Regions from separate parts of the Homo sapiens genome. Here region 1 is linked to region 2. Evidence: fine-mapped expression QTL. A gene starts in region 2. The other region holds a variant in brackets. All regions are shown on one strand. Distances are from middle to middle. Region 1 overlaps ANKRD13C (ankyrin repeat domain 13C). Region 2 holds the start of ANKRD13C (ankyrin repeat domain 13C).

What was found. PIP is the estimated chance that this variant, and not a neighbour inherited with it, causes the effect.
Region 1: its variant is the best candidate, but not a certain one, in a credible set for the expression of ANKRD13C in whole blood (INTERVAL, PIP 0.59).

Annotation. Positions count from the first base shown.
Region 1 is chr1:70,307,733-70,313,264 of GRCh38, forward strand. All of the region lies in intron 5 of ANKRD13C (ankyrin repeat domain 13C), which reads right to left. Among named protein-coding and RNA genes, the nearest start is that of ANKRD13C, 44 kb to the right of the region's middle. The variant A/G (reference allele first, on the strand shown) is at 2,859.
Region 2 is chr1:70,352,276-70,357,275 of GRCh38, forward strand. It overlaps ANKRD13C (ankyrin repeat domain 13C), which reads right to left and starts at 2,447. Exons shown (of 13, transcript NM_030816.5): 1 at 1,704-2,447. The coding sequence starts at 2,133. It overlaps ANKRD13C-DT (ANKRD13C divergent transcript), which reads left to right and starts at 2,536. Exons shown (of 4, transcript NR_168352.1): 1 at 2,536-2,933. RefSeq lists enhancers at 854-2,053, 1,313-2,231, 2,187-2,236, 2,232-3,149, 2,277-2,336 and 3 more.

The sequences.
Region 1 (5,532 bases), 44 kb before region 2:
CAGGAGCTTGAGGCTAGCCTGAGCAACATAGCAAGACCCTGTCTCTACAAAAATAAAAATAGAAAAATTAGCCAGGTGTGGTGGCAGGTACCTGTAGTCCTAGCTACCTGGGAGACTGAAGCAGGAGGATCACCTGAGGCCAGGAGTCGAAGGCTGAAGTGGGCTATGATCATGCCACTGCACTCCAGCCCAGGTGACACAGCAAAACCCTATCTCTTTGAAAAAGAAAAAAAGAAAGAAAGAAAAAACTTTTTTGAAACAAAAATTGAGAAGAGCAATAATAGTGTAATTCTATAAATGATCAAAGTTCTTTCATGCTCATTAATTGAGATCCATCCTGAAGTAAGTATTTGGTGTATCATGAACCAAAGATGATTAAAAGTAGATAGCACTCCAACTTAAGTTAATTTAACTTCATTATATCTCATTACTTATTTATTTTTTTAAAGACGGGGGTCTCCCTATATTGGCCAGGTTGGTCTTGAACTCCTAGCCTCAAGAGATCCTCCCACCTCAGCCTCCCAAAGTGCTAGAATTACAGGCACAAGCCACCATACCCAGCCAACATTATATCTTTTGAAGTAATTATAACACCCTACAAAAACAGAATTTAATATCATACACTAATACTTTTATTAAAAATCAGGAAAGGAGGAAAATGGTAAGGCAGAGAGAAAACAAGTTGAGGATTGAGAGCAAAAGCTAAGAAAAAAAAAAGAAAAGGGCAAGGCGCGGTGGCTCAGAGGCCTGTAATCCCAGCACTTTGGGAGGCCGAGGCGGGCAGATCACGAGGTCAGGAGATGAAGACGGTCCTGGCTAACACGGTGAAACCCCGTCTTTACTAAAAATAGAAAAAATTAGCCAGGTGTGGTGGCGGGCGCCTGTAGTCCCAGCTACTCAGGAGGCTGAGGCAGGAGAATGGCGTGAACCCAGGAGGCGGAACTTGCAGTGAGCCGAGATTGCGCCACTGTGCTCCAGCCTGGGCGACAGAGCGAGACTCCGTCTCAAAAAAAAAAAAAAAAAAAATTAAAGAAGTTAAATTATTGAGCAAAACAAACAACCAAACAAATAAAAAAACATTTCTGATAGATTTTAATGCATTCCAAAACATAGCAATTTACATTTTCCCAAGTCTGAAATAACTCTTTTTCTCCTCCACGTAAGTTAAACAACCAACCTATTTCCTGTTACCTCAGCATAAGTTTAGCACAGTATTCCAACAGTAGCATAATTCACTAAACAGAAAATAAAAAGAGAGTTTTTAAATTTAAATTTTCATTTGGCTACCACTTACTCCCCAATTTTCTTTCTTTCCTTTTTTTTTTTTTTAGACAGAGTGTCGCTCTGTCACCCAGGCTGGAATGCAGTGCCGCAATCTCAGCTTACTACAAACTCCGCCTCCCAGGTTCAAGTGATTCTCCTCTCCGCCTCCCAGGTTCAAGTGATTCTCCAGCCTCAGCCTCCTGAGTAGCTGGGATTACAGGCGCCCCCCTACCATGTCCACCTAATTTTTGTATTTTTAGCAGAGATGGGTTTTCACCATGTTGGCCAGGTTGGTCTCAAACTCCTGACCTAAGGTGATCCACCCGCCTTGGCCTCCCAAAGTGCTGGGATTACGGCGTGAGCCACTGCACCCAGCCTACTCCCCAATTTTCAGAAGAGTTTTTAAGCTTAATGTTTTCTATCTATAATATACAAATAATAGGCCGGGCGCGGTGGCTCAAGCCTGTAATCCCAGCACTTTGGGAGGCCGAGGCGGGTGGATCACGAGGTGAGAAGATCAAGACCATCTTGGCTAACACGGTGAAATCCCGTCTGTACTAAAAAAAAGAAAATACAAAAAATTAGCCGGGCGTGGTGGCGGGCGCCTGTAGTCCCAGCTACTCGGAAGGCTGAGGCAGGAGAATGGCGTGAACCCAGGAGGTGGAGCTTGCAGTGAGCCGAGATCGCGCTAGCCTGGGCGACAGAGCCAGACTCCGTCGCAAAAAAAAAAAAAAAAAAATAATAATAATAATAATATACAAATAACAGTCTCAAATACAGGATGGATTGATTCTGTAGACAACAAATAAAAATAGAGAATTAGTTTTTTAGTTAAAACGTGCTATATGCATAATGCAAAATTTAAAGTAGTGATCATATTATAAATTATTTGATACTTTATAGTATACAAAGGGCTTTCTTCAAAAAAATGATTTTATTTCATATACACCAAAAGAAAGTTTGCAACAGGTGGGGTAGTTAGTATTATCCTCATTTTAAAAATGAAGAATAAAGCTCAGAAAACATATAAAATATGTGATTTGCAATGTCAAATACTTAGGGGTCGGTATTTCTGACTCCAATTCAAAGCTTTTCTATACCTAAAAATCCAGGCTGGAATATTTCAGTTACCTTCAAACTTGTTACTAAGTCTGTGGCTATTTTCTTCGAAGTCTGAATATAAGTAAGAGCATAAAAAAGAGTGTGCTCTACTATCTCAAAAGTAAACTCACCCTGATTTCAGTATTTCTTGGCTTCCCCTTATTTTTCGCTTGCTTTTTAAAAAATATTATGTGTTTTGACAAGGGAAAGAAATATGCCAAAACTCTAATTAAAGTTTGATCATAAAATCTAATAAAAGATCTAGGCTATCTATAAGCCAATGGGTTTCGTTTTAGAATTATACATGACATCTAATCATCACGTATTAATAGTTGTGATGTTAAATCACTATAATCCTTTATTAGCAATGAAACAGATGTGCTGACTTTTTGCATCAAAGTCAAATTCTCAAAGAAGAAATACTTTGGACAACTGTCTCAGTGGTTACTTGAGGAACTCAATTATGCAACATTTATAATGTATTGTTTATAACT[A/G]TAGATATATACACAATTTTAGAAGTGATTGCATGTATTTATATTTTAGTATAATTAAAATATCACTTTTAAAATATTTTATAACATTTTGTTCAGCAATATACATTGATTATTTTAGAATTCAAACCACTAATGATTACTAAGAGAATCAGTTAAAAAGCCAAAATACTCAAGGGACAACCCAGTTTAGGATCACAAAGCAGGACTGGGGTCTCCCCACATGGGAAAAAAATGGGGTAAAAAAGACAGTATTCAGGTTTTAGGCCAATCTAACTTGGAGCTCCTTTACTACACAAGGCTACTATAAACCTGTTTTTCTATGTGTTCTAGGACACCAGGACTCCTGAATGATATATAAGGCATAAAAGCAAGATGGGACTATTAGAGTAACAAGACTGCATAATCATTAATAGAGACAAACTAGCCTGATGAGCTAGAGTTATAAAAATGTGAGAAAAAACTGATTAAATTTAGAATTTAAAATTCTCTATACAAGGATTAAACACACTAGAAAAACCTTAATCATCCATGCCATAAAGTATTATGTAGCTGTTAAAATTAGTGAAGTATTTCCACCTGAAATATGGTAAGATGCCTACTATGGGTTGAATAAAAATGATGGCTGGGTGTAGTAGCTCACGCCTGTAATCCCTACACTTTGGGAGGCCGAGGCGGGTGGATCATCAGAGGTCAGGAGTTCGAGACCAGCCTGGCCAACACAGTGAAAACTTGTCTCTACTAAAAACATAAGGCACATGCATGTAGTCCCAGCTACTCGGGAGGCTGAGGTGTTAGGATCACTTGAACCCAGGAGGTGGAGGTTGCAGTGAGCTGAGATCGCGTGACTGCATTCCAGCCTGGGTGATAGAGTGAGACTCCCTCTCAATAAATAAATAAATAAATGTCAACTTGCATAATGATATAACAGTATGATTCCATGGGAGAAAAAAAACCTAATTCTGAGGGGTTGTGTGTGCATAGCTATGTACACAAACACTTTAGTAAGCACTGAAAAGCATTTGAAAGTAGTCATACGAAATGTTAACAATAGTCACCTCTGGGAAGTGGTAACAGGGAAACTTAAAAATACCTGATTAATTTTCTATAATGTTCAAAACTTTTACAGTGAATATTCTATTAAAAATAGATTAAAATCTTAGTAAACTGAGGATAATTTTAGTATTAAATAACTTGTATTAGTCAAAGCTAACTAAAAAGCATAATACAATTTTTAGAAATGTATACAGATGTTATAAAATCAATGTTTAAAATTTACACAAGCTGTAATGTACATAAGCTGGAGAGGAAGTCTGATTTGTATCTAAAAGCTCCAAATAAAGAAGGCAGTTTATCAAAAATATAATTTGTAGAAAATTATTACTTGTTGAAAAGAGGCCAGATTCTTTCTCAAGACAGTAGAAAACTACTATTTTTTCATACAGTAGAGAGAAATAAGTGCTAATGGACTTCAGATTTATGGCTGCGTTTACTTTTTCAGAAGAAATCAGAAGATGTAAGAGAATTAGAAGAAATAACAAGTATAATTGTTAATTAAAGTTTAAATCTGGTAACTTCCTAGGCATTTTACTGCTATATGGTATATTGTATAATCTATTTTCTTACTGACGAGTTGAAGCTGAATTTGCAAACCCAAGTGTATTGTGAGAATATCATAACTTCCTCAAGGTTAACAAATATCAGAATGTAATGTTTTAAATTAAGTTGCATTTATTGACCTCCCATAGACTAGGCCTAAAACTGTGAAATTTCTATTACTGTTTTTTTTTTTTTTTGAGACAGAGCCTTGCTCTGGAAATCCCACTACAAATTGCCTGGGAAGAGCAGTAGCAGCACTGGATGGGGCTAAGTACTGTAAGTAATCTCCATTTCACAGTCTAGAATTTGTTTTTAAATGTATAGAGAAAACTATAGAGCCACAGAATGTAGAACTGAAAAGAAACAGATTTGCTAGTTCAAAATTCCTATTCTACTGACTTTGAATTCTTTGCCCAAAGTTCCTCATTTGGTATAATATGCATACGTGCCTGGGCGACAGAGTGAGTGAGACTCTGTCTCCAAAAAAAAAAAAAAATTAATTTAGATGCTTCAACAAAAACTCACATAAGCTCATTATGTCTAAACCTTTAGAGATTACATTTTTTTAAATCTTTAAAAACAACAAAATTTAGTTGTTTAGTTAGTAAAATAAAGGTCACTAGAATCAAATTTCATATTTGGATATGAAAGTTTTCTCTCTAGTGGACTCATGTTTAAAATGAGGAGAAAAACCTTGTTAAGGTAAGTCAATAAATGACTGCAAAAAAATCTAGGGCAAAATTAGGATCTTTCGTAAGTCACTGGAATCAATGTTCAACCAAACAGTATGTAAAGAAAGTGGCTATAAAGTATGCAAGAGGCAAAATAACGGAAAGACAACAAAATATACATAAACAAAAAATGTTAACTAAATTCTCCACATTCAGAGATCTAAGTACTAGATTTCAAACGTCCTTAAATTCAGTAGTCCCATAATCCCATAATTAATTTTCTTTTCTGAAAACTCCTTGCATTCTATTATTAAATTTTAAATGCTGTTTGTAAAACAAAATTTTTAAAACTAAAAGTGCCATTTTCAACCTTAAAAATATAAACTATTGGCCAGATGTGGTGGCTC
Region 2 (5,000 bases):
CTTGCAGTGAGCGGAGATTGCACCACTGCACTCCAGCCTGGGCGACAGAGCAAGACTCCGTCTCAAAAAAAAAAAAAAAAAAAAAAAAGTTAATTTCAGTGGGCTAAGGACAAGAGTTTAAGAGTATACAGGATTCTAATTACTTTGAACAGAATTTGAACTTAAACAAATGTACTCCTAAATGTTGGGTTGAAGAAGACATGGAAGCCCAACAATCCTGTAATTCAATAGCTTCAGTGATATTCATCCATCTCTTCTTTCAAAGGGAGTTAACTCTCAAACCTTTTATCTGTTTCAGGGATATTTCAAGGTAATGTAACTATGGCTACTATGTAAACCAAATTTGAAAAACTTCCTCATAATAGACTAATAAACTGAAGCTACAACCCATCTCCCACTAACAACTGTTTTCCAAAGGGCTAGCATAGAATTACCATCATCAACAAACAACATTATCCTTGTACTATAATAGTAAAATGATTAAGTAATTTAAATGTAGGAAAGAAAAACTGGCTGCAACTTTAACATACTTTTTTGGGGATTTATGATAAATGATAGGTGGTGATTTTATTACAATTACAACATTGTAAATTCTGAAAACAAATGCAGTTGTTAGATAATTATACAGCCAAGAGAAATCTTACTCGTTTTTTTTATCTGAATTTTTGTCCTAAAAAGCCTACGATCCAATGGAATTAAGTGAGCTTATTTCACAGGCAAATATTTCATTGATACGTATATCATTTTGAGCACAAAGTTGGTTCAGTGTGTTCTAACTGAATGTATACAATTTTCATATTAATAGCAGAGCGATCAACAATATTTGCCAACTACCCAGTTTAAAACGGCTATTAAATGTTAAAATGTCAGTGTTCACATTAGTCTTCAATAATAAATTTACTGTTGCTTAAAAGTCAACTCAGTCACATTATTTTTTAGAATTAAACAAAAAATTCAGCTGACAAGGCAAAAAGAAATGGTCAATATTGACTAAGATAAAATTACCATAAAAATCATAATACTATTTTTAGTCACAGTCATCAAGATGAGACATTACTATTAGCAATTATCTACTTAAAACAAGCAAAAAATCAAATCTCTACTCAAACAAAAATCGGCTGTTGAGAAGTCACTTTAACTGTTCTACGTATCAAATACCAACAAATTTCTACTGTGTGGCTTTCAGAAATCTAACATTCTAAGTTTACTGAAAGCAGACAAAAAAGAAACAACCTGGTGGCAGGCAAAATCACAACCAGTTGCAGTCAAGATGGGATCTGTATGTGAGCAATGAAGGGAGGAGGGCAATTTATGCGTTCAAAATTTAAAATGCCAAGGTAGGGGGAAGAGAGAGAAATAAAGATATATAGCTCCATAAACAAAGGGAGAAAACCATGTTGGGTGGGAGGCAACCTAAAATTTCTGACAGTCCAGAATCAGCAAATCGAAGGCCTGTCTCAAACAAAACAGCTTCTCACGACAAACTTTGAAGTGGGCAAGGAGGATACATTCCTTTGCACCCACAAGAACCAACCCCTTGACCACTGGCACGCTATTACTGAGTCGATCATGATTTACCGAACGGCCCGGATGATGGGCAAAAAGAAGAGTCTGCTGGAGGGGGCCTAGGATTCCAGAAGCCTGGGGAGGCACACCCTAGGCTCGGGGAAGGAGAGAGGTGGAGAGGGGCTAGCACTCCTCACCGTGATTATCTTTCTGCCCGATATTGTGCGTGCGGATGAGAGAGGAGAGTCTCCTCACATCCCCCTTGAAGACGCACTCGTGCACCGGGTAGTGTGCGGGGCAACTGCCTCCATCCGCGACGACAGCAACGGGGTTGGTGCCGGCCAGAAGGGCCGGGGACTGGGAGTTGGCAGTCACGGAGGAATTGTGCAGCGGCAGAGCCGGGGCGCCGGGGGGATTGGAGGAGGCCGGAGCTGCCTTCAGCTGTAGCCGGTGGTGATGGTTACTGAAGATCTTATGACAAGCTTTGCCGCCCTTGCCAATCCTGCTTCTGGTAAAGGTACCGCCGAGGGCAGCCGCCGCTTCCTCATCCCCGGGCTCCAGCAGGTCCCCTTCTTCTTTGCTGGGCTTGTGGTCCCTCCGCAGTGAGCGGATCTTCTCCCCGGTCATCGCCGCCGCCAGGGGCAAGGGGGGGAATCGGGAGGCTCACCGCTGGCGACGGAGCTGGCGCTGCGGCGGCACAAGGCGATTAGAGCGGTGGCCAAGAGCCTCCAGCGCAGCATGAACTCCCACTGAGCCCCCGAGCCTGGGACAAACGCATCTCCCGGGGAAGAGCCGGCTCTCGCCTAGGCACGAAGGGACGCGCGCTCGCTGGGGGAAGCTAGAACTCAGGTGCCCACGACACCAGGATCTCAGTCTCGCCGTCGCAGCCGCCGTCGCTGCCTTACACCGAAAAACAGGGCACGGCCATCTTCCTCTTGCTCCTCTCGCGAGAGCTCCCCCAGGAGTGAAGAGAGAGAAAACACCGCGATAAGTGAGCCACCCGCTCCCTCCCTCGCACCTTCTATTCCCAGAATCACTAGGCGCCGGCGCCTCCGAGGCAGTGTGTTTCCGCCCAGAGCTGGAGTCTCCCAGCTGCCAGCCGACCCCGAACCCGCACTCCCGCCAACCGCGCTTTTTGTGGGCGGTCGGAAACCACAGCCTCCGTTGGATATGTTCGGTGCATGTTATAAACAACCACTTAAACCCTCCGGATCTGAGCCTCCCGCAGAGGAATGCAGAATGACGCCACGGCACGCAGGATGTGATGTCACCGAGATGCAGAGGATACTCAGTCAACCAACATTTACTGAGCATCTACTTCGTGCCGTATGTACGAAGCTAGCAAATATGTACAGCACCAGTACTGATTGCAGGGAGCACTGTAGAAGAGGAATGAAGGCCAAACAATTAAAAGCGGAGGCGGGGAGGTGGGTTGCACACAAAAAAGGGAGGGACGAATTTTAGTGTTGAGTTGTCAGGAAAGTCATAGAAGAGTTTAGGTGCTGACTTTGGAAAATGATGGGCTGTCCAGCAATCGGAAAGAGGGGAGGCCACTCAAATATTTATTAGATGAATGAATTTCGGGCAGATGTCAGAGTTAACATATATGAGGGTGGGGACACTCAAGGAGGGCAAAGAATCGTGTAACTGAAATATAATTGTATTAGTTCATGGCCAACCTCAACCTAGTGTCAAACTCTGAAGAAACGTAAATCTGCCAACCATAAAACTTTAACAAAGTAACTAAAGCTGGCCACTGAGGACGTAAGGAGGGGGCTTAGCAAAACATCCTAAAGATCTTCACCCATTTAACTCTCCAAAGTCCCCCTATGTTCTGAGAGCAAATACTTCAGATCTCTCTCTCTTTTTTTTGTTTTTTTGTTTTTTTGACAGAGTCTCTGTAGTCCAGGCTAGAGTGCAGTGGTGCAATCTCGGCTCACTGCGACCTCCACCTCCCAGGTCCAAGCGATTCTCCTGCCTCAGCCTCCAGAGTAGCTGGGATTATAGGCCTGCGCCACCACACCAAGCTAATTGTTGTATTTTTAGTAGAGACGGGGTTTCACCGTGTTGGCCAGGCTGGTCTTGAACCCCTGACCTCAGTGATCCGCCAGCCTCAGCCTCCCAAAGTGCTGGGATTACAGGCATGAGCCACTGCGCCCGGCCAGATCTCTTCTTTCTTAAAGTTTATACTACTGCTAACTCATCTCCGCAAACAAACAACTCGATGGGCCTCTCTTAATCCTCCCCAGTCACTCAACTTTTCACCTCCAATTTTCTTCTCAGTCTGTTCAGATAAATCTGTTTCTTCCTCTTCTTTCTTTTTCGGTGGAGTGGAGAGTTCCGTTTATGTTAAAACATTACCCAATCAACAGTTCAAAGCATCCTCTTGAGACAGCAGTAGAGACTGAAAAAATACATGCAATAATGTTTGCTTCTTCCACAATAGCCAATATTTATTGTTAACGCTAAGCCAGGCAGTATGCTTGGCACTTTATATGCTGTTATCTCCCCCTGATTAGCATTAGTATCCTCACTTGACAGTTAAAAAAAACTTGCCCAATACTTCAATGCTAGAATGTGGTACAGTCAAATCTGACAGTAAGGCTAGAGAGAGAGGAAGGGCCAGGTCATGCAGGGCTTTGTATGTCATCTTAAAAGTTTACACTTGGCCGGGCGCGGTGGCTTATGCCTGTAATTCCAGCACTTTGGGAGGCTGAGGCGGGCAGATCACGAGGTCAGGAGTTCGAGACCAGCCTGGCCAATATGGTGAAACCCTGTCTTTACTAAAAATACAAAAATTAGCTGGGCGTGGTGGCTTGTGCCCGTACTCGCAGCTACTCGAGAGGCTGAGGCAGAAGAATCGCTTGAACCCAGGAGGCGGGGGCTGCAGTGAGCTGAGATTGTGCCCCTGCACTCCAGCCTGGGGACAGAGTGAGACTCTGTCCAAAAAAAAAAAGGAATAGTCTTTTTAGAGATCTTTAAACAGGGAATAGCATAATGCAATCACCTTTATAGAAAATTCAGTGACTCAGGCCGAACGCAGTGGCTCATGCCTGTAATCCCAGCACTTTGGAAGGCTGAGGCGGGTGGATCACTTGAGGTCAGGAGTTCAAACCAGCCTGGGCAACATGGTGAAACCCTGTCTCTACTAAAAATACAAAAATTAGCCGGGCATGATGGTGGGTGCCTGTAGTCCCAACTACTCGGGAGGCTGAGGCAGGAGAATCGGTTGAACCTGGGAGGTGGAGGTTGCAGTGAGCCAAGATCGTGTAATTGCACTCCAGCCTGGGTGACAAGAGCAAAACTTGGTCTCAAAAAAAAAAAAAAATTAAAAAAAAGAAAATTCAGTCACTCATACTTTAGAGAAGTATGCATCAAGAACAGAACTTTAAAGAAGTATGCAGTAAATCAGATGATGAGAGCATGAACCAAGTTAGTAAGAGTGAGGCAGAAAAAGGTTTAAGAGGTTTTTAAAAATGAGTTCAATCTTAGCA